Linked DNA regions of Homo sapiens: region 1 is linked to region 2. The links come from fine-mapping of genetic effects on gene expression. A gene starts in region 2. The other region holds a variant in brackets. All regions are shown on one strand. Distances are from middle to middle.

Region 1 (14,044 bases), 360 kb before region 2:
AGGCCCAGAGGATGAAGGATGTGAACGCACACCCATCAAACCTTTGAGCCATGCTACGTCCACGACAGCGTGCGGCCTCAGGGAGATGCAGGAAGGAGCGAGAGTGACTCCTTCTGTCAGCAGTGGGCTAGGAAGTGAAGGCCAGGAAGGCCTGGTGGAAGAGGCACGAAGGAGCTGGGCTTTGAAGGGAAGGAGGATCATTCTCTGGGCAAAGGAGGGGTGGAGCGAGAGGGGGTAGCACAAACAAGATCTAAGACATTGAACAATAAAACACGGAGGTGATGGGGACGCGGAGCCTTGGGGGATACCTGACGGAAGCCTGCAGGAGCCAATCAGAGATTGTGGGGTGGAGGCTGTGAGCACTTGGAAACCAGAAGGGGGGGCAGGCACGGGCTATGTGGGCTCCTGGCACAGTCAGCATTGGCTGAGGCCAGGGAGGAGGCTGATGGAGCAGGCATTGCCGAACTGTTGTCCACGCCACGCTGGACCCAGAGAGGCCGAGAAGGGAAGCAGCAATCCTGGTAGAGGCTGCATGTCCAGCAAGGGCTGGGCCGAGGACCAGAGGCGCTGAGCGTGGAGGGCAGAGCGGGGCCAGGCGCTGCCTCCCCTGCCTGCGGGCACCAGGAGTGCCAGTTTACTGCCAGGCTTCAACCCAGAGGCGGAGGCAGACAGGGCCCTGCCCTCAGTGCTGGGAGCTGAAAAGGGATCCAGCCACACAGAACTCCATCTTCTTTATTTTTGGGGAAGCTAGACAATTTGCTGAGAAGCAAGTGCTTGTTCACTAAATAGAGATTCAAAGGGTTTCGAGTGAGGTGTGATTCCAGTCCACCTGATTGTTGGTGAAAGAGCTGAAGCATCGAAAGCCAGTGGAGGGCCTCGTGTCACTGCAGGAACACAGCTGCGCACGTGGAGTGGGTTTTGCACGACACAGTCAAGTCCACGGAGATGGAGGCGGGTGCGAAAGTCAATGTGTGCGTGGGTTCTGCAGATGCCTGAGGCCACTGGCTCACCTCCACCTATGGTCTCCGCTAAGCGAGCCCAAGACGGGCTCTACTTCAGCTCCAGATATGGCGGGCCAGTGTCTACCCCTGCTGTGCGCGCCCCCACCGTGAGTGCAGAGGTCAGGGAAGCCCCATGCCCGTGGCTCCTGAAGAGGCCCCCATGAGGAATGCGTGTTGCAGTGAGTGATTGTCTCCAGGACTGAGCCGTGTGGAATTGAGCTCAGCTGCCATCTAGGAGGTCACGCTGCCATCTAGGAGGTCACGCTGCCATCTAGGAGGTCACGCTCTGCTGCTGTGCTGCCTGTGCTGGCGTGAATCATGAGAGGCTGGGACCTTTTCTGGGAGCTGACATGTCTCACCTCACAGGGCGAGTTTACAGCCTTCAACCAAAGGAAGCATTCTTCCCAGGGACACGTCCCCTGCGGGTCTTGCCCATACACATGTGTGCCTGGCCGGCGGTCCCTGTGCTTGAGCCTTGTGCCCAGGAGGAGGCAGTGGGAACGTCTTGGGAGCCTAGGGCCCAAGCACACCTGGACTTCAGCGCCACGGTGCCACGCAGATGCACCTTCTGCTCAACCGTGGTCCTGCACCGCGTGTACTGGGACAGAACCGAAGCCTTCCAGCTCTCAGATTGCACAGCTCTGCGATAGCCGTGTAGATCCACAAGCAAGTCTCGGAAATGTAAAATCGGTCCAGACTGTAGGAACATCCCTAGAGTCTCCTCTACCCCAGCGGAGCCGGCTCCTAGGAACTGCTCCGTGCAACACAAGGACATCGGCGATGGCTGCGTCCTCATTTTTTTTTTTTAGAGTGGGTGGGTGGGCTAGGAGATTTGGCTTTGAATTCCCTCCCGCGACAGGCCCTGGTGAGGAGGAGATGCGGCCTCACTGGCGAAGTTCGCTACCGCCTAGCTCCACGACACTCTCTAACATGGGTGACAGGATGGCCCCGTAAGATGCCCGTTGATGACTGCCCACCTGAGACCCACTCCCCTTGATTATTCTGGGGTCCTGGGCTCCCCACAGCTGAGTGAGGCATTGAAGCAGCTCCCCACGAGGCTCGACTGCCCCGTGAAGGGGCTGTGAGGGGCAGCTGGCCTTATATGAGAACCCTCCTCACAAGACCCGGGGGTGAGGACCAGGCCACTGTGAAGAATAGGGCACTGGGCAAGCCCGGAACCCAGGGCAGGCACGGCAGGAGGCCCCCCACTCCCGGCGGCCCTGGCAGACTGCGAGGAGGGTGCAGGCTGGTGGCTGCTCAAGCCTCACCCACAATGTGGGGGCCACAGACGCGGACACCCGGGGTCTAGGTCAGGGCTCCACAGGACACTCCAGGTAAGGACCCTGGCAATGTGCAGGGCGGGGTGGGGGTGTGTGTGAGATGTATTAGCTGCTACTTTCATCTAACTTTTTTTTTTTTTTTTTGAGACAGAGTCTCGCTCTGTCGCCCAGGCTGGAGTGCAGCAGCGCGATCCCGGCTCACTGCAAGCTCTGCCTCCTGGGTTCATGCCATTCTCCTGCCTTAGCCTCCTGAGGAGCTGGGACTACAGGTGCCCACCACCACGCCCAGCTAATTTTTTTTTTTTTTTTTGTATTTTTAGTAGAGACGGGTTTCACCGTGTTAGGCAGGATGGTCTTGATCTCCTGACCTCGTGATCCACCTGCCTTGGCCTCCCAAAGTGCTGGGATTACCGGCATGCGCCACTGCGCCTGGCCACTTTCATCTAATTTTTAAAAACAGATTTTTATTACAGTTGGCCCTCTACATCCATGGATTCAACCAACCGCAGATCGAAAATATTTGAAAACAAAACAAAAAGTAATACACATAAAAAAAAAAACAAGAGAGCATAACCACTGTTGACACACTGTGCTGGGTTTGGCATTATAAGGAAACTAGAGAAGATGCAAGCACGATGGGGGATGTGTGTGGGGGATGCACAGCTGTCACGCCTTTCCTAGCAGGACTGAGCGTCGTGGGCCCTGGGCCCTTGAGTCCCCCACGCGTACCGAGGGCCAACGCTATTGTTGTCGACCTTCGTGCAGACTTCCACTTATATCAAAGTCGAAATACTGTTTGCGACTCAACAGGGGAAAAAAAAATCTAATTTTTGCCAGTCTTTTTAGTGACAGTGGATTTTATAACTATGTACTAGTAAAAAGTATGACGCTGTGATCACGGAACTGCTGTCTTTATTTCACGTCTTTCCCTGGTTTGGCCACAATCTTCTCTCAGGCTCCGTTGTATGAACTGTCCTGTTGTAAAATCTGCCAGTCCCCAAAACAGACCGCAGAGAACTTCCCATCGGATTCGAGTCCACCAGGAAGGAGGTGGGGCTGCCTGGGTCCTGCCCGGCAGGGAGTCAGGGACCGGGGATGTTGAGCTTAGAAAGGGCCCCTGCTGGCACTCACAGAACTCCCTGTAAGCACGGAGAACCTATTTTCATGTCTAGACTAAAAGTAATAAAAGATCATAATGAATGGTTTTAGAAGTTATTGTTCAGAGCCCAATGGCCACAGCTTTCCAAATAGCATACACGGCGGGGAAATTTACTCAGAGCTCTGGCTGACTCTGAATCCCAGAAGCTCCCCGGCTGTCGGAGCAGTTCAGAGAAGACAGAGTCTTCCTGCAGGTGACAGCTGCCAGCCGCCACCCCAAGGCTGAGGGGTTGGCAGAGCGGGTTACGCCCTCTGATGTGCTCACCCAGTCTGTGATGGCCAAGACCCTCTGCCATCCTGGGGAACCAGTGCCCCAGGCCGAGGGCTTCCGCAGCGGCCCCTTTCCTGTGACCCCTCCTGACCCCTCAGGGGCTGCACCCACAACTCGGTGTGGCTGTTACGAGAATCACGCTGACCAGCCGCTCCGCCCTCCCTCCTCCTGGGCCGGCCGGAGCCGTGGGCCCTGCAGCTGCCCACAGGGAAGACGCAGCACCTCCCGGGCCGGGTGGGCGGTGCGTCTGCATCGTTTTCTCAGCATATTCAGTACCCCTACGAGACAAACATCATAATGGCCTTTAGTTAAGGACTTTTGTCCTAAAAACATAATCCTGTAGCATTGGAAAACTGTTGTTCATTTTCTCACCACCGTCTTCTGACAAGAGTAACTCCAGTTTCTGGGTTGTGAAGCCTTTTCCTTCCAAACCTACACAGTTCCTTTGGCAAAAACCCTGCCTAGCTTTTCTTTTGGTTGAGCGAGCACCAGGCTTTTTTTCTGCAAAGGCAGAAACCAATACCTTCTCTGCCCTGAAACCCAGACCTCGAGGCCTGGCCGGAACTCACTACTGGGGGTCTCTGGAGCTGCACGCGGGGCTTGTAAGGACTCTTTCAGCTTCTCGATGCCTTGGAAAAAAGGAAGGAAACTGTAGTTCTAGGTACCCAAGAAGGTGAGGTGGGAGGATTGCTTGAGCCCAAGAGTTCGAGGCCAGCCTGGGCAACACAGCGAAACCCCGTCTTTAAGAAACATTAAAAAATAAACCAAGGGAGAAGCAGTTGCTATGGCCCGTCCTGTGAACACCAATGATGCCGCAGTGCAGCCGGCCGCAATGTGTGCGGCTGAGAGGCCTGGGCAGGCCTGGGGTGCAGGGGCCGCCACTGTTCTGTGGCCTCCCAGGAGCCGGGCAGTGCCCCAGTTTCTGGGCTCGGGTCTCCGGGCTCCTCTTTCCTCCAAAGGCAGTAGTTCTGGCTCCCAGATTCGGAACGAAGTAGAGGGGTCAGGACTTGACACCAGCTCTCCCGCAGAATCCCGTGTTCAGGTGTGGAGAGCACAGGCGGCCTGCGGGGCTTCTGGCTCTGCCGCTGGCCAGGGCCCCCAGCTCCTCCTCTGGGTGAGCAGGGCGCTTGCCACAGCTGCACCAGGGCCGGCTCCAGGCTCCGCAGGGCTGTGTTCCTTTCTCGCCCTCCCCTCCCTTGCATTAGTCCATCCTGGATCCATTTCTATGGTAACTCATTTTCAAAACCGTAAAAAATGTCACCGTATCTAGCAGAGTCGTGAAAACTGGTCCCATCTAGCCCAGGCCTCTGATCTGCGTTCCTGCCAGCGCTCTCGGGATGAGGCTGTTTCTGCGGGAAGAGCCTTCTCAGGCCACCAGAGTCCCGAGCAGAATTAACTCCCGCCTCGCCTCTCAGCACGGGTGTGCTTGGACTCTGGCCGAGACGCAGGGTTTCGGGAGGGAAGGCGGGTGGAGCACACAGCAGCGTGGTCCCCCATGGGACTGCACTCTAGCTGGGAGCTGGGGCTGGACGGATGAGCGTGGGAGTGACATGGTGTGGGGCCACATGCATGGGTGTCTGGGGGTGAGGAGGGCACCTCAGGCTGGGTCCCGGGACATGTGGACACAGGCCACAGACCGTCTCCAGCCATCCTTCCATCCTGAGCAGCTCCACGGCCACTTGTGGCCGTCAGGAACACAGATAAGTGCAGAGGGCAGACGCATGGGCTGGGGGCCGGGACAGGTGAGGCCTGTGTCCACACATCCATGCGTTAGCAAGAAACAACTTTATAGGACTGTGGTGGTAAAAATGGCGACATCATGCTTTGATGTACTGGGTCAGGCACCTACATGGGGATCCTGGCGGTGGGCCAGGCAACCTCCCGGCAAGACCACCTGGCTCTGAGCTGCACGGATGGCAGAGGGGCCGGGCCAGGGGCCAGCCAGGGGTGCTGCGGGCAGGTGCAGTGGAGCGGCTGCTGCTGAGACGGGGGGCAGGAGGCTGAAGGAAGGCCTTGAATGTCAGACAATGGTTTGGCCTCTACAGAAAATGCGGTTTTAACGAAGGCTTCACCTGGAGGGTGGTGAGGAGCTGGTGTGAAAGAGGGCCTGCCCAGTTGTGGTCTGCAGAGAGCAAGACCCAGGGCAACGAGGCCTGGTGGGATGGGGGCACTGGAAATAGGAGGGATTGAGGTAGGGGATTCTTGTGGATGTCAGGCCAGACGAAGGGCTGAGTGAGAAACAAGCAGGATGGAGACATCAAAGAAGATTCTAGAACCTGACACAGTGCTGAGACCTGGGTTCCCATTTAGTTTCACAAACATTTATCCTGCCCCACCAGGGCCAGGCACTGCTGGGGGAACCTGGGCTCCATCAGCGATCAAAGGAAGCCAAGTACCAGCCAAGGGGCTTCATTGCCACGGGGAAGAAAGGAAACACGTGACTGAGGGTGTAAGAATGCAAGTGCTCTGGGGAAGGCAGAGCAGGGAGGGCGCTGGGGGCGGGGCTTCTGGGGGGCCAGGAAAGATGGGGAGGCGCTGGGGCAGGGCTTCTGGGGCACCAGGAAAGATGGGGAGACATGGACTCTCCAGGTTGCCATGGTTCTGAAAGCCTCTGCAATCTTCACTGAAAGGACTAAAGAGATTGCTGTTCTTTGGCTGAAATGAAAGAAGAAATTGGCTGGAAACAGGGAAGTGCTGTGCACAATGGGATTCTGTGTAAGTTATGACTTCTAAACACTTAGGTAAGCACGGTGGTTTCCAGGTGGTGTGAGTGACACCTCACTGAATATGAATGAGGCTGGCTTTGCAGGGGCGACTTTGTTTTCTTTCCTTCCTAAACTCCAGCTCATTGTGAAACTCTTTCCTGTCAAATTTCCTAAGATTTGAATGATATACGAATAAAACTCAGTTTTCTCCAGTAAAAAAAAAAAAGTCAGGAATCACATTGTATAAGAAGGATGGTGGAATGGGGAGTCCAGCTCCTTCGAGAAGACAGAAAAGAAAGAACCGGCAGAGGAGAAAACTCATGGAGGCCAAGCCCCTGTGTCCGGGCCCCAGGCTGCTGTGTGCTTCCCGTCTGGGTGGCCCTCAAATGAAACTGCGATTCTTCGCCCTGTACTCCACCGAGACCAGTACCGAGGATAACAACGGCATTCACTCATCACAGACAAGAGCTAAGTTTCACACAGGAGTTGGGCGGGGCCTCCGCAGTCCCTCTTGCCTGTGGACAGCACCCAGGGCCTCAGGCATGGCACGCGCACAGCAAACAGCAGCCTCAGCAAGTTCAGCCACCTGGAAACTCCACAGCTGTGAACTTTCTGTAGCCTTCGCCAGCAGAAGGGGAGATGCCCATGTGGTATCCAAATGCCCAGGGGGAAAGGGAGGTGCTGTGGGCGTGGGGACCTGCAGACGGAAGCTCTCAATGGTGCCATGGTGACCCAGCGCCACACTGCCTGGCTTGAGCTTCCTGGATCAACAAAAGGTGCGGTTCTGCACACTTGCAGGCCAGGTGCAACTTTTTATTTTGATTCTTACTTGATGGCCAGATACGTGTGAGTGGAGGGACGAGAGTGAACCGAGAACCCCATGGAGCATGGGCCAGGTAGGGTGGCGGGGCCACCAGGCCCTTGGCAGACGGTCACCAGGTGAGCACCGAGGGGTGATGCTGCTGTCGCTTCCTGTGAAAGAAGAAGGCCAGTCGAGCACAGTGGCTCATGCCTGTAATCCCAGCACTTTGGGAGGCTGAGGCGCGCAGATCACCCGAGGTTGGAAGTTCGAGACCAGCCTGACCAACTTGGAGAAACTTTGTCTCTACTAAAAGTACAAAATTAGCCAGGTGTGGTGGCATGCGCCTGTAATCCCAGCTACTTGGGAGGCTGAGGCAGGAGAATTGCTTGAACCCGGGAGGCAGTGAGCAGAGATCGCGCCATTAAACCCTAGCTGGAGTGACAAGAGGAAAACTCCATCTCAGAAAAAAAAGGAAGGCCACAGTGAGCACACGGCCCCAGGAGGGCCACAGTGGAAGCAGGGAGACCCGGGAGAGAGCTGCGACCACCAGGCCAGAGCTGCTGGCTCAGGTGGCTGCGAGGCGGGGAGGAGACGGCCACAGATGCCCGGCTGAGAGAAGGATGTGTTGGGGCACAAAGAGGAGTCCCCGACTCCTGGCCAGGAGTCAACCTGAGTAAACGCCGGTCCCCTTGGCTGCAGAGGGAGGACGCCCACTTCTGCAGGGAGGGGTGGGAGATGCCCAGAGCCGATGGTACTGGCTTCGACACAGGTGGCATTGGGTTTGCCTGTTCTGTACTTTTGTGCCCCAGCATGCACAGTGGGGGCACTGTCAAAATATCTGTCCAATCCGTGGGAGAATCCCAAGCCCTCTGACTCACAGGAGTATCCTTGGAGGCCAGGGTGCGGGCAGGGTGTGCCCTACTGTCAGGCTCTCTGAGCTGAACTCAGCCTTGTTTTTCTATGGCCTGTGTATGGTTCTTATACTTTTTAAGTGGTTGAAAAAAAAATCAAAGGAACAATATTTTGTGATGTGAAGTTACGCAAAATTCAAACTTCAGTCCACACGGTTACATAGCAACATGGCCAAGTTCATTCACCTACACGCGGTCTCTGGCTACTTTTGCACCACACTGGCAGTGTTGGGGAAGTGCCAAGGGGCAGTCCCACCTGCAAAGCTCTTTCACAGGAAGAGTTTGCAGACTCCTGCTCTAACCTACACGTGACGGAAGGGAGCTATCACCTTGACCTTGATGAGCGTGAACTGGGGCAGAGGTGGCACTAACCTGCTGGAGGCGCTAGAGAGCTATTCACAGGAGCTGTGGCCGGGGCCAGGGGAAATGTGTAATCAAAACAGAATACTATGAATTTACATTTTCTAGTACTTAAAAAAAAATTTTTAAATACCTTTTTTCATTGTAGATTTATAAGTAGAATTTCTGCAGACAGGTTTTAAAAGACTCTTGCAGGCTAGCCTGGAAACCTAACCACTATATGTAACATTAATTCTATTTAAAAAGTGTATTCCAGTTCAAAACAAACATCTTACAAGTGACGTTAGAATATATTTCATTGGTGACTTGGCAATACCTTGATTTATACTCGAATATACGGAGTCAACTCTGCGCTTTCTGGGCACTTGGCATATTTTAGTGGACAGCCAAATGCACAAAGCTGCAACGTTATTTCTCAATGAAAATTAACAAGTTGGCGTGTCTGGGCTAAGCTGGCGTGTCTGGGTTGTTGTGTAGTGAACCTTTCAGTTCTCCATACCCTGGAGGGCATGGTGCAAGCTCTGGACTCGTTCTATCCAGAGGTGCTCAAGGCAGCAGCTGGCCAAGGCTGGGAGCACACCCACAGGGTTGCCCGGTGGGAACTGCCTTGGCGGATGCCCTGCGTCTGTTTCGGGTCTTTGGGCTCCTGTCATGCGCTGCTGTCATTGTGGCTGGACCGCCATCCCCAGGAACCACAATGGAAGTAGAAAGAAAGCTTGAAGCTGAACACAAGTGAAAAGCCCATCATCAAAACTCACTAGACGGAGACGGCGGGGTGAGCAGGGGCGGGGTGAGCAGGGGTTGGGTGAGCAGGTGCGGGGGGAGCCGGGGCGGGGGGAGTCGGGGCGGCGGGGGGTGGGGGGAGCGGGGGGGGAGCGGGGGCAGGGGTTGGGGGAGCCGGGGCAGGGGTCCCGCAGACCTGAACACACACATTAGGAAGGAAGAAAAACTCAAAGTTAATGAGCTGTTTTTATTTTCTGTTTGAGAACTGTAACAGGACAAGAGAGTGAACCTAGAGAAAACAGTAGAAAGGAAACAAAATAAAGTACTGGAATAGAAAAATAAAGATAAAATAATGCAGTAAATCCACAAAGCCTAAAAGTTAGAACTTGAAGACACTAAAGAAATGAACAAACATCTTAGAGGATTAATCAGGAAAAAGGGGAAAAGGCAAATAAACAACAATAGGAATAAACGGGGACATATCTAAAGAGGCAGCAGATTGGGAATATCAGTAAAAGCAGCTAAAACAATAAAGAGACAGCAGAGATTAGAGACTCATGAGAATACTGCAGACAGCCTCAAGGGAAAGAATGAGAATACTTAGCTGAAATGAATAAAATCCTAGAAGAATAAAACTTTTTGAAGCTAGCTTATGAAGAAATAGAGAATGTAAATAATCCTATCAGCATTAAAGAAATGGAATACAGAATTCAAACCCACCCTCACAACACTACACTAGCCCAGACAGTTCAGGGGCAAATTCTACTCAGACACCGAAAGAACACATCATCTTTGTCTTATAAAAATTGCCCCCGAGGACAGGGAATGACGGCGCACTCCTGAGCCAGTTTTTTTGGACAGGGAATGAGGGTACACTCCTGAGCCAGTTTTGTTTTGTTTTGTTTTGTTTTTGTTTTGAGATGGAGTCTCACTCTATTACCCAGGCTGGAGTGCAGTGGCGTGATCTTGGCTCACTGCAACCTCTGCTGCCCGAATTCAAGCAACTCTCCTGCCTCAGCCTCCCAAGTAGCTGGGATTACAGGCACCTGTCACCATGCCCGGAGGAGCCAGTTTTACTAGGCAGGTACAGACTCAATGTCTAAACCAGCCAGGTCAGGACAAGAAAAGTCACAGCCCAACCCACTCGTGAATGCCAATGGGGAGCGCCCAAAGAAATAGCTGGTGAGCGTAAGGCAGC[G/A]ATGTCAGGGGACATTACCACGCTGGGTGCCCCCAGAAATGCAAGGATATTTCACAAGAAATTCAATCATGTAATTCCCTACCCTAACAAACAGCCATGCACAGGGTCATTCTGAGATGCAGAAAATACATTCAAAGAAATTAATTCCATTTATCAGGAAAATTCTTAACTAACTAGAATAGAATGGGAATTTGCACTCATAAAAAGAGTGAACCAAAGGGAAGGGAATTTCTATAAACTGATATAGAGCACCCACTCAAAAAATCTACAGCAAATGTCGTATCAAAGGTAAAAGGTTAGAAAGGTTTCGTTTACTCTCAAGAGAGAAACACAGATGTCCACTGCCATTCTTTTTTTTTTTTTTGAGATGGAGTCTTGCTCTGTTGCCAGGCTGGAGTGCAGTGGTGTGATCTCCGCTCACTGCAACCTCCGCCTCCCCGGTTCAAGTGATTCTCCTCCAGTAGCTGGGACTACAGGTGCGCACCACCACACCTGGCTAATTTTTTTATAGTAGAGACAGGGTTTCACCATGTTGGCCGGGATGGTCTTGATCTCCTGACCTCGTGATCCGCCCGTCTCGGCCTCCGCCTCCCAAAGTGCTGGGATTACAGGCGTGAGGGACCGTGCCCAGCCCACTGGCATTCTTTCTTTTTTTGCCAGCAACAGGTTTTAAAAAAGATATTACTTAAAATTACAAAAACTGAAAGGTAACGTCATGCCTGTGACCTTTATGCAGAAAGTTAGACTGTCTTGAAGACATAAAGAAGACTTAAGTAAATGGAAAGATACACCCTGTTCAGGAGCAGGAAGACTCATGATGCAAGGAAGTCAGTCATCCCAGGGAAATCCACCAATTCAGCGCCATTCAAACAACACCCCAGTGAGGCTGCTGTCGACACAGAAAGCCTGACTGTGAAATGTATACAGCAGAGCAAAGGGCTAAGAGCGGCCAAGACAGTTCTGAGAAACGAACTGAGGAGCGGGCTCAAAGGTGCTGCCCCCGCAGCTGTGGTGTGACGGCGCGGCCGTGTGGGGTGTCGGCGCGGCTGTGTGGGGTGTCGGCGCGGCCGTGGGGTGCCGGGGTGGCTATGCGGGGTGTCGGTGCGGCCGTGGGGTGTGTCGGTGCGGCCGTGGGATGTGTCGGTGCGGCCGTGTGGGGTGTCGGCATGGCCGTGGGGTGTTGGCGAGGCCGTGTGGGGTGTTGCTGCGGCCGTGGGGTGTCAGCGAGGCCGCGTGGGGTGTCGGGGCGGCTGTGTGGGGTGTCGGCGCGGCCGTGGATGGGATGGGTGCTGCTAAGAATGGAGCCCCCACTCAGACCCTAAGGACTGATGGCCAGGGAGACGCTGAGAAGCACTGGCGGGAGGACGGGCTGTCTGATGAAGGGTCTGGGGTGGCATAAAGAAAAAATACAACCTGGATCCCCACCTCACCACAGAGACAAAATGTGGTTCAGGATATACTTAAGACATGAACACAAAAAAGGAAAATTTTAAATCTTGGAAGAAAATGTAGGAGAATATGTTTAGGACATTGAGAATAGGAAAAACAAGACACAAAAGGCCCAAGTTATAAAGAAAAAGAGAAACTAAAAGATTAAGCTTGTGTGGCACCAAAGGCATCATAAAAAGTCATAGATTAGATGCATTTTCGATGGATATATTCAGCCAGGAATCAGCACCCAGAACTGTGATGAATGCTGATTACAAACTACTCAGAGAAAGATAAACGACACAAGGCGAGTCTGTAAGGCTGCAAGGCTGTAACCTCACTGCAATCAAGGCAGATGCAAATTCATGCCACAAGGAGACACCAGGTGTGTCTATCAGACAGACAAAGGCTGGCCAAGACCGGCGTGGTAGAGAGTGGCGAGATGGGGGCGCCTGCGCTTTAGAACAGAGGATCCCGTGGAAGGCCTGGGGCGACATCTACAAAAGCTGAAGGTGCAGGCACCGTTCACGCAGCAGCTTCACTCTGAGGCAAGGTGGCGAGAGGCACTCACGTGTATCCACGCTGAAGAACACGCACCACACACGTGCCCGTTTATGTGTATTGAGCACCTACTGCGTACCAGGCACTGGGTGTGGACAGGGTGGGAGGAGACAGTGGTTAACAAGGCTGGGTTCCTGCACGTGCGGCTCTCAAGCTCCAGGGGAGAGAGATGGGCCGGGCCAATGAACAAGTTACACGTACAGCACGTCTGCAGTCCACAGTCCTCAGGAGAAAAATAAAGCAGGAAAAGGGAGCAGGGTCAGAGGGCAGCTGGGGAAGCCTGATTCCAGGTGGGGCGTGGGGCTGGGGAGGCTTCTGGGAAGGTGCTGCCAGATGGGGGCTCTGAATGAGAGGGGAGCGGCCACCATATGCCGGAGAAGAGCTTCCCCACCGATGCCCAGGCTGGGGGCCGGGTAGGCTGGGGCCCAGCAGAGCTGGGTGCAGCGAGTGAGGGTGTGTTGGATGTGGGGCTCCATGGTGGCAGGGGCTGAATTCTGAGTTTGCTTATTAAGAAAAGGAACAAAAGGCAAGAAGAAACTAGAACCGGCCTCACTGTCCCCAGACAGGAGAATGGATAATGGAGTCACGGCAGATCGCGGAGGTGAAGGAACAAAACCTAGATGACCATCAAAGATACATATTGAAGTCAGAGCCAAAGAAACGGGCTTTGCGGGCCACGCATCGTGCGACGGCGCCAATAGGAGGTAAAGGCCTCTAAGTGGGCACCACGTGTGTGCCAGGGCTCATGGCCAGGGAGGGAAAGTGTAATGTCACCAGAGGGAATGGGACCGGGGTAGGGTCTGGGGCTCGACCTCTGTAATTCCTTAAGCTGGGAACACAACACACACACACACACACGCAGCGCTCTTATATAAGTCTCTGTAAATTTTTACATGGCTAAAATGCTCCTTAACATGAAAAAAATTCAAATGAAGCCGGTAAGCCACTCTGGATAGTCAGAACAAGAGGAGATGAGGCTCATTTGGTTAAGCCCTAAATCTGTTACCAGCAGTGTGAAGATGAACATAGCTACACAATAAGAAAACACGGTGAATTCCTGCTTCTCCTGTTTTACAACAGCAATCCTGGTGGTAGGACCCAGGCACACACCATTCATGGCAGAACAAGAGAAGAATCTGACCCTTCCGTCAGATTTCCATTTCCAGGCAGTGCTGCGTCAAGCTGCTGGGATGGAGGGAAAGTTGTGTGGAGATTCCGCAGGTGAGCAGGGCGGGGATGACAGCCCCCAGCCCGACCGCAGGGCCCTCCGCCTCTCACTGCGGACACTGTGTGGGGGCTGTCCTGGGCACCAGGGGATGTGAGCAGCTTCCTGGCCTCACCCACTGGGACAAGGAGCACCCCTACTGTACCCCAGTTGCTCGTGGGGGGCAAAACCACCCCCGGCTGAGAACCACCGTTCTGCATCACCAGGGTGTCCAGCACCATGAAGAACTCTCACCCGTCTATGGAACAAAGATGGAAGGTTCTGGCAGCCTTCCCACCCAGCCAAACTGGCCAGCTCCGATGGCTCCGGAGCAGCCTGTAAAATACTACCCCAACACAACAGTGATGTCAACTTTCCCGCTTGCCCCAGCAAAACGTTCTCCCTGCCTCGCAGTCCTGTTGACCTTTATTCTTTCTTTTGA
Region 2 (15,527 bases):
TAAGACAAATTCTTCTGCCTTGAGATTCTGTTAATCTATGACCTTACCCCCAACCCCGTGCTCTCTGAAACATGTGCTGTGTCAAACTCAGGGTTAAATGGATTAAGGGCGGTGCAAGATGTGCTTTGTTAAACAGATGCTTGAAGGCAGCATGCTCCTTAAGAGTCATCATCACTCCCTAATCTCAAGTACCCAGGGACACAAACACTGCGGAAGGCCACAGGGACCTCTGCCTAGGAAAGCCAGGTATTGTCCAAGGTTTCTCCCCATGTGATAGTCTGAAATATGGCCTCGTGGGAAGGGAAAGACCTGACCGTCCCCCAGCCCGACACCCGTAAAGGGTCTGTGCTGAGGAGGATTAGTAGAAGAGGAAGGCATGCCTCTTGCAGTTGAGACAAGAGGAAGGCATCTGTCTCCTGCCCGTCCCTGGGCAATGGAATGTCTCGGTATAAAACCCGATTGTACGTTCCATCTACTGAGATAGGGAAAAACTGCCTTAGGGCTGGAGGTGGGACATGCGGGCAGCAATACTGCTTTGTAAAGCATTGAGATATTTATGTGTATGCATATCTAAAAGCACAGCACTTAATCCTTTACCTTGTCTATGATGCAAAGACCCTTGTTCACGTGTTTGTCTGCTGACCCTCTCCCCACTATTGTCTTGTGACCCTGACACATCCCCCTCTCGGAGAAACACCCACGAATGATCAATAAATACTAAGGGAACTCTGAGGCTGGCGGGATCCTCCATATGCTGAACGCTGGTTCCCTGGGTCCCCTTATTTCTCTCTCTATACTTTGTCTCTGTTTCTTTTTCTTTTCCAAGTCTCTCGTCCCACCTAACAAGAAACACCCACAGGTGTGGAGGGGCAACCCACCCCTTCACACTTTCAAAAAATCCCTCTGGCCAGGTGTGATGGCTCACGCCTGTAATCCAGCACTCTGGGAGGCTGAGGTGGGAGGATCACTTGAGCTCAGGAGTTCAAGACCAGCCTGGCCAACATGGTGAAACCGCATCTCTACTAAAAATACAAAAAATCAGCCGGGCATGGTGTCATGCACTGGTAGTCCCAGCTACTCGGGAGACTGAGGCACGAGAATCTCTTGAACTCGGGAGGTGGAGGTTGCAGTGAGCCGAGATCACGCCATTGCACTCCAGCCTGAGAAACAAGGAGAGACTCCATTTCAAAATAAATAAAAGATCCCTCTGACTGCTATGTGAAAAACTGGTTGTAGGGCAAGAATGGACATAGGGAGACCAGTCAGGACACAAATGCAGTGTCCAGACAAGAGACGGTGGCTGCCTGGACTGGGGCTGCATCAGTGGAGACAAAATGAAGCAGGCCAATGTAAGACATGCTTTGGAAGTAACGCTGATGGGTTCTAATGAATTGGATGGGGCGATAAAGAGAGGGAGAGGAAAGAATTAAGGATAAACTCTAAACTTACAGCTTGAACAACTGAGTGGATGGTGGTTGTGGCAAGCGGTGATGGAGAAAACTAAGAAAAAGCAGGCAGTAGGCATCTGAGACAGAAATTTCAGGCCAGATCAGAACTAAAGATTGGGGGTTTAAGCATCACTGGCATGTAGACACTATTTAAAATCATGGGCCCCGATGAGATCTGCTAGGGAGGGGCACACCCAGAACAGAGAATGGGGTCCAAGATCAATTCCTGGGGTGCCCCTGCATTTAGGTGTCAGGTAGCAAAGGAGTCTGAGAAGGAACAACTAGTGACCTAAGAGGAAAATCCGAGTTTCGTGGAGACACAGAAGCAAGTGAGGAAAGAGCTTTATGAAGAGGCCATGGTCCACATTGTGGAATGCTGCTGAGAGGTGAAATAAGAACAGAGAAGGACAGAGAAGAGAACTTTAGATTTAGCAACAAACTGGGGCCATATGGAGACCAGTCTCAGGGGAGTGGAACAGGGCACAGTTGGAATGTGGAGAGGACGCAAGGTGAGGAAAGCAGAGGGGGTAGTGTAGATTATGAAGGATTGCTATTACCCTTGCTGAAAAGACCGCATAAACCTTTGGCAGTCCATGTATTAGTTGAACAGATCTACTCTGCTTCCTCCATGACCTGGGCAAAGTATGGCTACAGAGCAATGCAACTGAGTCTAGAGAATGGTTTACAAAATAGCCTTCTTCATCTAACCGTTTCATCCCCTACACATGTAGACATAGGATGCCTGTCAGTGGTCCTACACATGCATGGAAATAGTGTCTGACAATGACACCACACATGTGTACACAGAATGTGTCTGCCAGGGGTGCTACATGCATGTAGACAGAGTGTCTGTCAGTCTACATGTGTGTAGACATAGCATGTCTGTCAACACTTTCAGAGCAATAGCTCTCAAGCACCCGTCATTCCATCCCACATATTCCAGGCAAAAGAGTCATCTGAGACCAGTTATCCCCACTGTCCACTTTCCAGTAGGAAAATGAACTCTGTGATAACTATAAAGTATCACAGTTAGACCAGGCACGGTGGCTCACACCTGTAATCCCAGCACTTTGGGAGGCCGAGGCAGGTGGATCACCTGAGGTCAGGAGTTTGAGACCAGCCTGGCCAACATAGTGAAACCCCGTCTCTAATAAAAATATGAAAAAAATTGGCCAGGCATGGTGGTGGGCACCTGTAATCCCAGCTACTCGGGAGGCTGCGGCAGGAGAATCGCTTGAACCCAAGAGGCGGAGGTTGCAGTGAGCCAAAAACACAAATAGGGGAGATATATACGTATCTGTTTTAGCCAAAGGTCTGTGAATGATTCATTTTGAACTACAATTCATATATGTCTAGTTATTTGAAAATTGCAAGCTAAAAACACTATGGATACATATATGCCTCATTCACTATACATAGTAGAATTAACCAAACAACAAACTAACTTGATAATAATTTTAAAGTAACAGTAACTTAGAAATTAAAATGTGGTAAAAGTGGCATTTGAAAACCAAGACTGATTCAAAACAAAGATGGCAGGAATCCCAACTGAGAGCGGGCAAGGGCTGTAGCTCTGGAAGGATGCCAAGTGTTGGGTGGCAAAAAAAACTTCTTGGGAGTCATCAGTCAGTCAACTTTGGTAAAGATGTCAATTTGAGGAATCTGTAGCAAGGCTACTAAATAGGAGCCAGTAAGAACTAATGAATATATGTACAAAATAAAAGCGTATGGAATTGCACATTAACCACAAGAAGAAGCAAAATCTCAGCTTGCATTTAGGACAGTCAGTGGCCACCAGGAAGTAGTTGATGTAGCTCCTAGCACAGAACAACCACGCCCACACATTTCACTTTACAAACATGCTGCTCCACCAGACTGGAGGCTACGTCCAGCACAGTGGGACTGTGTGGCCTGGAGGCCTGGGTAACAGAGATTCTTACGTAGGTAACCCACTGGTCAAAAAACACCCCAGGGCCAGGTGCTGTGGCTCACACCTGTAATCCCAGCACTTTGGGAGGCTGAGGCAGGTGAACGACCCGAGGTCAGGAGTTCAGGACCAGCCTGGCCAACATGGTGAAACCCCATCTCCACTAAAAATACAAAAAAAACTAGCCAGGCGCCTGTAATCCCAGCTACTTGGGAGGCTGAGGCAGGAGAATAGCTTGATCCTGGGAGGCGGAGGTTGCAGTGAGTCAAGACCACACCACTGCACTCCAGCCTGGGCAACAAGAATGAAACTCCATCTCAAAAAAAAAAAAAAAAAAAAAAAAAAACCACCCCAGGCTGAGCGTGTTGGCTGATGCCTGTAATCCTAGCATTTTTGGAGGACAAGGCAGGAGGATTGCTTGATCCCAGGAGTTCAAGACCAGCCTGGGCAACACAGTGAGACTCCCCAACCCCAGACACACTGGCGCACACTTATAGTCTCAGCTACTGGGGAGGCTGAGGTGAGAGGATCACTCAGGCCCAGGAGGTCGAGGCTGCAGTGAGCCGTGTGATCTCACCACTGTACTCCAGCCTGGATGACAGAGCAAGACCCTGTCTCAAAAAAAAAAAAAAAAAAAAAGAAACAGAAAAACACTCCACAAATGGGGTTGTTCAGCCTGCAGTGTTGGACTACAGTGTGTTTGGTAATAAATCTGAATTAGTATGAATATTTACAATAAAAGAAAAAAAAAGTTTGCTGACTTCTCAAAGACAAAGAGAGAGGCCTGGCCATAGCCCAGTTGCCCCTTCAGTTATGGCATCAGGGAGCCCCTGTTCCCACCCTCCAGAAACTGTCACACACACTGTGCCAAATGTCAGCTGCCATTTGTCTTTATCTTTGAACCTATGCCATTATTCTTCTTAAATGTGGCCTGTTTCATTCTCTTATGCTACCATCCCCACTCAATATCATTTGAGTTTGCAACTTCTGTCCTATAGCATGTGTGATACGGTCCTTGAGGGAAGAGATGACAAGATTCCAAAGGACCTGACCTTTGGAAGAGGGAAGAGATGACAAGATTCCAAACTCCCACACACTCAACTGAAGATGTTAGCTGCTGATTTTCTCCACCGAAAAACAGATACAGCAAACTTTCTCCCCAGCTCCTTTCTAAGCAGCAATCTCAGTAGTCACTAAGAGTCACAGAACTTTTGTTTCTCTTAACAACCTGTGAAAAGCTTATTAGGGAATGTTGATCATTCACAAATTAATGTTTTAATTAAAAGGTCAAACGTATACCCATTAATCAGTTTCAAACTGTTGGAACATAGGTTTAGGACAGCAGAGAGAACCACATTTCAAAATAACAACAACAAAAAAACTGCCCTCCACAAAGAATTTTTTAAAAAGTCTTTTCATATATGTATAGCAACCACAAAAGCTTTTAACTATATAGTTACTACTAAAGATGTCCATAAGATAGAATTTATACAACCTCCCCCAATGACTAACTTATTTAACTCCTTAAAATGCTTTTGGATGAAACAAATTTTCCTAACCTTTTAGAAGTAAGCCAAGTCAGTAGCTAACTGGTTACTACTGACTGACTGACTAGAGTTACCAGAAGTTTTATTTATTTATTTATTTTTGAGACACAGTCTCACTCTGTCCCCTAGGCTGGAGTGCAATGGTGCGATTTCGGCTCACTGCAACCTCTGCCTCCCAGGTTCAAGCGATTCTCCAGCCTCAGCTTCTCGAGTAGCTGGGATTACGGGCACCTGCCACCAAGCCCAGCTAATTTTTGTATTTTTAGTACAGACAGGGTTTCACCATGTTGGCCGGGCTGGTCTCAAACTCCTGACCTCAGGTGATCCGCCTGCCTTTGGGAGGCCTGCCTTGGCCTCCCAAAGTGCTGAGATTACAGGCGTGAGCCACCGCGCCCAGCCCAGAAGTGTAATCTTATATATGTTCAACATCATATACTAAAAAACAATAATATTCCATAAACATATACATAAGCCTAGAGAAAATCAAACATTGTAACACCAACTTCCTCTTTTATACCACTGAAATGTGCAAATAAAAGCAGCCTGGAGGGAGAAAATAACTTACAAAAAGACAAATTATAAGTGTGCATAGAGGAGAAGCAGTACTACCCTTTTGCTTTTGAGGCCAGGAAATAGATGGGTGTTTTATGAAGGACAAATCCAACAAAATTCGGCTGTTTTCTTTCCTACCAGCTGCTTGTGAGTCACTCTCCACACTCCAAACACCATGCGGACACCCTAAAACCTGCACCCAAGTCTCGACGCCTCATACCCTAACTCACGATTAAAGAAATCCTGTTTCCAAGTTACAGCAACAGGACACTACATAAAAGGAGGAAAATCTAGCTTCAAGAGAAATTGTTTAGAAGACTAGAATGAAGTTCAGTGTAACTTTATAATAACTTTGCACTAATTTGTTACTAGTTGAACATTTTCCAGTAATCTCATTTCCTAGCATAGTATATCAGACTTCTGCACTTCACCCAGCTTGGATATTTTAAAAAGTAGACTAATCATGTGGGTATAAAGATTATATCGCACGTTGTCCTTCCTCTAAGTGTTTACAGAACTAAGTAGTATGCCAAAGAGCATGTAAATACTCGCAATGCTCTATTTTCAAATTTGCTTAACTTTTATTATCTGAATTAGAACTTAGTTGGAATTGAATTAACACTACCCAGTGAATAATGACTAACCAAAACAGCATTTTCCATTTTCAACCAAAAACTGCAGTCTGAAATGGCTTTTGCTTTCTAGTTGACTTACAACGTGTGGCTAGGGGGAAATGTCGGCGCTTTCCCAAGGACACTTTTCGGGCTGTAAACTTTCTTTGTTGGGGAAACTACCAAGTTCAAGGGGTGCCTTCAGAATCCACTTACCCGATCCTTCATCCTCCAGCTCTGAGCTAAGGATTTGGAGCCTTCAATTTTCTCACAGTGCCTCTTTTTCATAAAAGCCAAAGGTAGGTTCCAGTCTGTAAGATCAGCCTCATCTTCCTCCCCCAGGCCCAGAAGAGGCGATTGCAGCATTTCGGACTCCATCAGTGGGGGAGGGGGTGGGGGAGTCCTTGGCAGCAAGCGCTCGAGAACCTCCAGCCTTAAAAACTAGCGTGTACCAGAATTGGTGAAATAAGAAACAAAAACGGGAAATCGAAAACCAAATGGATAAAGAGTGCGGAGACCCTTACTCAGGCAAAAGTCTGAGATCCTTATCTCTAACTCTGAGCGGGAAGTGGGGAGGTGGGGGCCGCTAGGAAATGGGGCAGCCCAAGAAGCTCCGCAGACACACACCACCCCAGGTCCCAAGCCACTGGCTGCTCCTGAGGCTGTACGTTTCCAGAGGGGCTGCGAGGGGAGCTGCCAAAAGCGTAAGAGACTTCAGGCCTCACGATGACCCTGCTCTCGGCCTCCACCGCCTCAGCAGTTCCGAAGACAGGCAGGCCGCTCTTGGTGCCGGTTCGCCCACTGGGCCGACTGGGCTGAGGTCTCCGGCCAAGGGATCGGGTTCAAAGGGCCCTGGGTCTCCTCCAGCCACTCTCAGCCCTGCGGGTCCCGCACTCGTCTGAGCTGCTGCAACCAGAGCCACGACCGGCCCATCGTGCTCGCCTGCACCCGGTTCCTCAACCTCAGGTCCGCGCGGCCTGGCTGGTCCTGGCCTTCAGCCCCGAGGCTCTCTCCTGCCTGAGAACGAGTCCTGAGAAACGGGCGACACGGAACCACGGAGGAAAGGGACAATGTGGGCTTATTGGGTCATGGGAGCTTTGCCCTCTGGTTTGGAGCTACAGTGAAACTCATCTCATCAGCCCATCAAGGAGGACGCCATATTGCCAGGACCCAGAATGCACCGCGGCCTACGGCGTGGCCGACAGACCAAACCTCCTCAGAGCGGTCTCTCCCCGCCACCCAGCATGCAGCGAAGGAGAAAGAGTCCCCGACCCCGTTACCTCGGTTACCATAATTCCGTTTTCCCCAGTTAATCGCCATTTGTTCAGTAGAGGCGTGTTATTAAAGTCAATCCTACAAATGAAACTGTCGGTTTAATTTATTTTTTCAAAAACATTGTCATTATAAATGAAGTTACATGCTCCTGAAATTAAAGGAATCAACCGCCTTGTTTCTTCCAGATTTTGAAAAAGCGGCAAAAGCTTCACTGATAATATTAGAAAATATTAAAAAGCACTGATAATATTAGAAAATATAGTACTTTTTTTTTTGGAGTGTAGTGTCCTCCACAGTGTCAATCAGATTTTCTCTTTAATTTTTTCATAGAGAACCAAGTGAAAGGCCGGGCGCCGTGGCTCACGCCTGTAATCCCAGCACTTTGGGAGGCCGAAGCGGGCAGATCACGAGGTCAAGAGATCGAGACCAGCCTGGCCAACATGGTGAAACCCCGTCCCTACTAAAAATACACAAATTAGCTGGGCGTGGTGGTGCGCGCCTGTAATCCCAGCTACTCAGGAGGCTGAGGCAGGAGAATTGCTTGAACCCGGGAGGCGGAGGTTGCAGTGGGCCAAGATCGTGCCACTGCACTCCAGCCTGGGAGACAGAGCAAGACTCTTCAGATGAAGAAGGGTCTGAAGCAACAGAAGAAGAGTCTGGAGCAAGATTCGATGAAAAAAAATTTCATCTAATACAATTTTTTGTTTAATCTGTTTCGTTTTCTGAGCAGTTTATCCTTTTTAAATTTTTTTCCCACTTCTTGGTAGCAGTAGTTTATTCTTATTTTGATATAGCTTCACGTGCAGACATCTAAAACTACATGTCTGTGCGTGGAGGCAAGCCTCTTGTGTGACTCTCTTTTTCAATTCAGGAAATTTGGCTCATTTACAATGTATAGAGAACTGTGTAAGGTGGACTATAAAACCAAATGTAGGCAGGGCACCGTGGCTCACGCCTATAATCCTAGCCCTTTGGGAAGCCGAGGAGGGTGGATCACGAGTTCAGGAGTTCGAGACCAGCCTGGCCAACATGGTGAAACGCCGTCTCTAATAAAAATACAAAAATTAGCTGGGCGTGGTGGCGTGCGTCTGTAGTCTCAGCTGCTCGGGAGGCTGAGGCAGGAGAAGAGCTGGAACCTGGGAGGCAGAGGTTGCAGTGAGCCGAGATTACACCACTGCATTCCAGCCTGGGTGACAGAGTGAGATTCCATCTCAAAAATAAATAAATAAATAAATAAATAAATAAGAATAAAACGAGGCCAGGCGTGGTGGTGCACGCCTGTAATCCCAGCACTTTGGGAGGCTGAGGTGGGTGGATCATGAGGTCAGGAGTTCAAGACCATCCTGGCCAAGATGGTCTTGATCTCTCAGGATGGTTTTCCGGGGCTTAGACACATGTGGCCATCCATATCAAAATCTTGATGGCATTTGTGTTCCTTTCAAAATGAGAATGAAGAATACAATCCCAGACCTTTCTCACCCAGCACAAAGCAAGCCTTTAATAAAGGCTACAGGATTAAATCATTGTCATTCCGCACATTCGTTTGGTTATTACACCCCATGGAGCCAATTCTCCTATTGAAACTCAGGGCACCCTCTCTGTTGGCAGAGACTATCCTCACAGTTACCAGCAGAGGCTTCAGGGATGCAGGGTCTTAGGAAGACCCCGTTCTCATCTGAAGGCAACAAAATCACTCCTGTCCTCTGCCTTGTCACCTTGCTCCCCACCTCCGGTGGCTGTAGACAGCTGCATTCCAGCAGCTCTTGCAGGAAGTCACAGTTACAGAAAAGCAGCAACGCTAAACCCATTCATCCCTAACTAGCTCTGTGACCTGGGAAAGCCCACTGAATCTGTGTGAGACTCAGTTTCCTCACCTATAACGTGTGTGACCTTGGGAAATCCATTTTTCGTATCTGAAATTCTAAACGAAGGTGTCAGTGAGCACGTTGAAGTCCAAACCCACCAGGTGGTCAGAATCGCCCAGGAAACTAAAATTCAGGATGCCCAGCTTCCAACCCAGAGCCCCAGATCGGGGAGCAGGGAGACCGGGATTCAGAATCTGCATTTTTTTTTTTTTGCAGTTTTTACAGTTTTATTTAAACACAAAACATGCACATGAGCTGTCTGCTCGTTTTCTTCACTGCGCAGACTGGCATGGGGGTCAGTGACTCTGATGGCCAGCTGGGCGGCTCTTTCTGTGGTGGCTTCGCGGTTCCTGGAGGAAACACTGTGAGCGATCTCAGCGCAGTAAGAAGTGTTGTACATCAGCAGCACTTCCAGCTCCTTGACGTTGTAGACTGAACTTCCAGAAGCCAGTGGGCAGCGTGTGCTTTGTTTTTTTGTTGCTCCCATAACCAATGTTGGGCATCAAGATCTGGCCCTTGAACCTTCTACCAACCCTGTTGTCAATACCTCTGGGTTTCTGCCAGTTACGCTTAATCGTGACACATCGGTCTGACTGGTGCCGGATGAACTTCTTGGTTCTCTTTTTGATGATCTTGGGCTTCACAGGGGGTCTGAGGGCGGCCATGATGCCAAGGAGGAGATGGCTGCCCCCTCCATAGGCAGCGCCAAGGAAGAGAGCCAGAATCTGAATTCTTAAATCAGGTCGCTCTGAGGATAGTTCACAGCCAGGCAGACTTGGAGGTCTTAGACAATATTCGCTCTAAAGTCTCCTGCAGTGATTCAGTTCGGGTCCCATATTGGGCCCTTAATCAATATGTGTGGCAAATGAATGAATGCTATGAAGTAATTGTCCAGACTTCCATCTGACAAAGCAGAAAGAGACTCACCTTCTCCTCAAAACAGCAGAACAAAACACACCCTCTACTGTTTAACACATGTGACCCCGAGCCAGGGGTCCACTCGGGTCCTGGACTGAGGATGAAGACACACACACATTCTATGGTCCCCAACCTGCCACCAATTCCTGCAGATTTCAGCAAAGCCTCTGCCCTCCTCCACCCTTGGTCTCCACGTCTGTGACATCAGGAACTTGGAGAAGGCGAATTTCTAAGGATCCTTCCAGTTTGAAATTCTGTGATTCATGTAAAGACCAGAAAGGGGCTTGTGACTGCTCAGCTCTCACCCTGAAGGTTCAAGGATGGGCCTGAATCATTTTATGGCATCTTGACATTTAAAAGAAACCTCGTTCTAGTATGTCACGGATGATTCTCTTCAAGTCCCAGCCAAGCATTTGGAAGTGGCTCTAGGTTTTTGAAAGGCAGTGAGCATCTGTGAGTAATGGCAGCCTGGAAATTCAAGGGCTGACTTGTCTCACCTGGGTGATTCCATGACTGTGGCATGTGGTGGGCTGGCCACTCGGGGCTGCAGTTCCAATTTCCAATGTCTCCAGTTCTTCACAAGCAAGGACATCTATTGTCCACAGAGACTTTAAATAAGATCCTTTTTTTTTTTTTTTTTTTTTGAGACAGAGTCTTGCTCTTGTCGCCCAGGCTGGAGTGCAGTGGCGCAATCTTGGCTCGCTGCAACCTCCGCCTCCCGGGTTCAGGCGATTTTCCTGCCTCAGCCTCCCGAGTAGCTGGGATTACAGGTGCCCGCCACCACGCCTGGCTAATTTTTGTAATTTTAGTATAGACGGGGTTTCACCATGTTGGCCAGGCTGGTCTTGAACTCCTGACCTCAGGCGATCCACCCGCCTTGGCCTCCCAAAGTGCTGGGATTACAGGCATGAGCCACCGTGTCCAGCTAAAATACTTTAATCTTAAAAACAAAATGTTAGGAATCTCAGAAAACACACAAACCTGGTTTGATTCAAGCTATGAAAACGGTCATGACCAGCCTGGGCAAAATAGTGAGACCCTGTCTCTACCAAAAAAAAAAATTTAATATTTATACCTGTGGTCCCAGCTACTTGTGAGGTTGAAGCAGGAATTTGAGCCCAGGAATTTGAGGCTTCAGTGAGCTATGATTGCACCACGGCACTCCAGCCTAGTCAGTAGACCAAGATCCCATCTTAATTTTTAAAAAATGCAGAAATTAAGAAAGAAAGTGGGGGAGGGTGTTGGCAACAACCTGCTCCATGAGTCTCTTACAGTCACTTATTCAAGACTTGAACACAGAGGTGTTTGTAAGACCACATGCCACGAAAGCCTCCTGCTGGTGGTGAACGTCAGCCTGCAGATGTGGGGCTGAAGGGGCTTCCAGGCCCAGCTAGGATCCAAAAAGAGTGGAACAGACCATGCGCAGTAGCTCACACCTGTAATCCCACACTTTGGGAAGCTGAGGTGGGAGGTTTGTTTGAGCCCAAGAGTTTGAGACTAGCCTAGGCAACACCGGGAAACCCTGTCTCGACAAAAAAAAAATAATAATAATTCTTTTTTTTTGAGATGGTGTCTTGCTCTGTTGCCCAGACTGGAGTGCAGTGGCGTGATCTCAGCTCACTGCAAACTCTGCCTCCCAGGTTCAAGTGATTCTCCAGCCTCAGCCTCCAGAGTAGCTGGGATTATAGGCGCCCACCACCACGCCTAGCTAATTTTTGTATTTTTAGTAGAGACAGAGTTTTACCATGTTGCCAGGCTGGTCTTGAACTCTTGATCTCAGGTGATCCACCTGCCTCAGCCTCCCAAAGTGCTGGGATTACAGTCATGAGCCACCACACCTGGCCTCAACAACAAAAAAAATTGTTTAAATTAGCCAGTCATGGTGACATGCGTCTGTAGTACCAACCACTAGGGAGGCTGAGGTGGGAGGATGGCTTGAGCCCAGGAGTTTGAGGCTGCAGTGAGCTGAGATTGCACCACTGCACTCCAGCCTGGGCAATCGAGCAAAACTCTGTCTCAAAAAAAAAAAAAAAAAAAAAAAAAAGCAGAATAACCTGCTTGAACAGAGTGGGGCACCTTGTCCTACCATGTAAAGGTAGACCAGGTGACTCCTTCTTACCCTAAAACTTAGACTGTTCGACAAATGGAATTAAAGATACAGCAAAGTGAGCAAGAGAACAAATATAAAAACCTGAGTGTGGGGGGCAAATATGACAGAAGGCAGAAATGAATGCAGGGAGAAATGCAGGGGGTGGGGGTTGCATAAATGGCTCAGATAAATAGCCTTTACCAGGAAGAACTAAGGTGGCTGGATATTCAGTCTCCGAGCTCAGCATTGACCCACTGCAACTGACCTAATCTTTTCCCAAAACAGAAGACCATCACAGCCGAGGCATTCCATTCACAGGCAGAATGGGCTGCGTTCCATGCGGCAGCATTGCCACTTCTCTGCTAAATCAATCAAGGGCACTGAATGTGTTTTGTCATCAAGAATCAGGAGCAAGGCTGGAGGTCAGGGAACTTGAGAAAACCAGGTGCTTCGCTGAGCTGTTGTTTTCCATGCAGGGAGAACAGCCAGCTCCGGTCCTTTCCAGAAAAATCTATGCTTAACTTAAAGGAAACCAAAATAGACATGAAGAACGTCGCTTTTGTCTGAGCATCATGACTCCGTTTTTAGTAAAACCCGAGCCACTCCCCCCTGCAGGTCAGATGCTTTGTTGACAGTGAAGTGAGAAGAGGAAGGAAAAGGAGGTAACACGGCCACAGCATTGCCTTCAGCTGGGAATGTGAGGCTGCCAGGAGCCCAGCAAGGCTGTCTCCCCCTCTCCACCCGTCTAAAAATATGGTGGTATTTATGCATGTGATTTTCACCTTCTACAGCACACCTTTCTATTTTATTCATTTTTTTATATAATAAGCATGTAGATCAATTAGCAGAAACAAAGTTATTCCCATTTTTAAAAGGGTCCCTGGGTAGCATAGGGACTGTGGTGAAAAGTGCCTCTTACTGAATAAACTTCACCCACTGTCCACATTTCTTCCTTCAGAAGTGAGGATTTTTGCATAGCCCTAGCCTTAAAAAGCCAGCCAAGGAAAACACGGCAAAGACAGAGCCGAGAAGGAGATGCATCAGGGAGGGGACTGCCTGAGAGCCCAACACGGAGCTGGGACCTGCACCCCAGCCTCTCCTTCCCACCCTGGGCTGTTTTGCGAAGGGCAGTGAAGAGCCTCTCTGAGACGCCTGCCATGTGGAGCAAGACAAGGGCAAAGCAGCTGGGAGAGCAGGTGCCCAGGCCCAGTCCCCGCTGGGTGGCCTTCCAGCCTGGGCGCCCTGACCGATGAGTCCGGATGGACTTGGGGAGCCATCTGCAAGGCTTTACGGCATCAGACGCTGCTGTCTACGGCCCTACGGATTCTTTGTGGAGAAGGGATGAAGGTACAGTGTCCGTTGGAGGTCAAACATCCCATTATTGGGAGTCCCTTCCTTCCTCCCCCAGATCCTAAAGGTAGAATCACAAAGATGTGGTCTGTACCCATGGCAGATTTAAAAAGAAAAAAGGGGCCGGGTGCAGTGGCTCATGCCTGTAATCCCAGCACTTTGTGAGGCCGAGGCAGGCGGATCACCTGAGGTGGGGAGTTCGAGACCAGCCTGGCCAACATGACGAAACCCCGTCTCTATGTAAAAAACACAAAAAAATTAGCCGGGTGTGGTGGTGCATGCCTGTAATCCCAGCTGCATGGGAGGCTGGGGCATGAGAATTGCTTATATACAGGAGGTGGAGGCTGCAATGAGCTGAGATTACGCTACTGCACTCCAGCCTAAGCAACAGAGACCCTATCTCAAAAAATAATAAAAAAGAAAAAGAACCCTCCCCCTCCCCCTCCCCCGCTCCCGCTCCCTCTCCCCACGGTCTCCCTCTCCCTCTCTTTCCACGGTCTCCCTCTCATGCCGAGCCGAAGCTGGACTGTACTGCTGCCATCTCGGCTCACTGCAACCTCCCTGCCTGATTCTCCTGCCTCAGCCTGCCGAGTGCCTGCGATTGCAGGCGCGCGCTGCCACGCCTGACTGGTTTTCGTATTTTTTTGGTGGAGACGGGGTTTCGCTGTGTTGGCCAGGCTGGTCTCCAGCTCCTAACCGCGAGTGATCTGCCAGCCTCGGCCTCCCGAGGTGCCGGGATTGCAGACGGAGTCTCGTTCACTCAGTGCTCAATGGTGCCCAGGCTGCAGTGCAGTGGCGTGATCTCGGCTCGCTACAACCTCCACCTCCCAGCCGCCTGCCTTGGCCCCCCAAAGTGCCGAGACTGCAGCCTCTGCCCGGCCGCGACCCCGTCTGGGAGGTGAGGAGTCCCTCCGCCCTGCAGCCACCCCGTCTGAGAAGTGAGGAGCCCCTCCGTCGGGCAGCCACCCCGTCTGGGAAGTGAGGAGCGTCTCTGCCCGGCAGCCACCCCGTCCGGGAGGGAGGTGGGGGGTCAGCCCCCGCCCAGCCAACCGCCCCGTCCGGGAGGAGAGGGGCGCCTCTGCCCGGCCGCCCCTACTGGGAAGTGAGGAGCCCCTCTGCCCGGCCACCACCCCGTCTGGGAGGTGTACCCAACAGCTCATTGAGAACGGGCCATGATGACAATGGCGGCTTTGTGGAATAGAAAAGGGGGAAAGGTGGGGAAAAGATTGAGAAATCAGATGGTTGCCGTGTCTGTGTAGAAAGAAGTAGACATGGGAGACTTTTCATTTTGTTCTGTACTAAGAAAAATTCTTCTGCCTTGGGATCCTGTTGATCTGTGACCTTACCCCCAACCCTGTGCTCTATGAAACATGTGCTGTGTCCACTCAGGGTTAAATGGATTAAGGGCGGTGCAAGATGTGCTTTGTTAAACAGATGCTTGAAGGCAGCATGCTCCTTAAGAGTCATCACCACTCCCTAATCTCAAGTACCCAGGGACACAAACACTGCGGAAGGCCGCAGGGTCCTCTGCCTAGGAAAACCAGAGACCTTTGTTCACTTGTTTATCTGCTGACCTTCCCTCCACTATTGTCCTATGACCCTGCCAAATCCCCCTCTGCAAGAAACACCCAAGAATGATCAATAAAAAAATAAATTAATTAATTAAAAAAAAATTAGCCGGGCGTGGTGGCGGGTGCCTGTAGTCCCAGCTACTTGGGAGGCTGAGGCAGGGAAATGGCATGAACCGGGGAGGCGGAGCTTGCAGTGAGCCGAGATCGAGCCACTGCACTCCAGCCTGGGCGATGGAGTGCGACTCTGTCTCAAAAAAAAAAAAAAAAAAAAAAAAAAAAATCTCATTTCCTGAATGGATGAGGAGAACAACACAGATGGGTGAGCCACAGTGAGAGACGCTATAAGGAAGTTACTAACCAAAACCCATTCGGAC

The links.
Region 1: its variant is fine-mapped to the expression of RPTOR in whole blood (INTERVAL, PIP 0.95).

The regions. Positions count from the first base shown.
Region 1 is chr17:80,893,977-80,908,020 of GRCh38, reverse strand. The region is part of intron 20 of RPTOR (regulatory associated protein of MTOR complex 1); the gene reads right to left. Among named protein-coding and RNA genes, the nearest start is that of CHMP6, 91 kb to the left of the region's middle. The variant G/A (reference allele first, on the strand shown) is at 10,410.
Region 2 is chr17:80,536,566-80,552,092 of GRCh38, reverse strand. It overlaps RPTOR (regulatory associated protein of MTOR complex 1), which reads right to left and starts at 7,255. Exons shown (of 34, transcript NM_020761.3): 1 at 6,302-7,255. The coding sequence starts at 6,463. It also overlaps the pseudogene RPL32P31. RefSeq lists enhancers at 5,908-6,734, 6,662-6,761, 7,042-7,401, 6,735-7,561.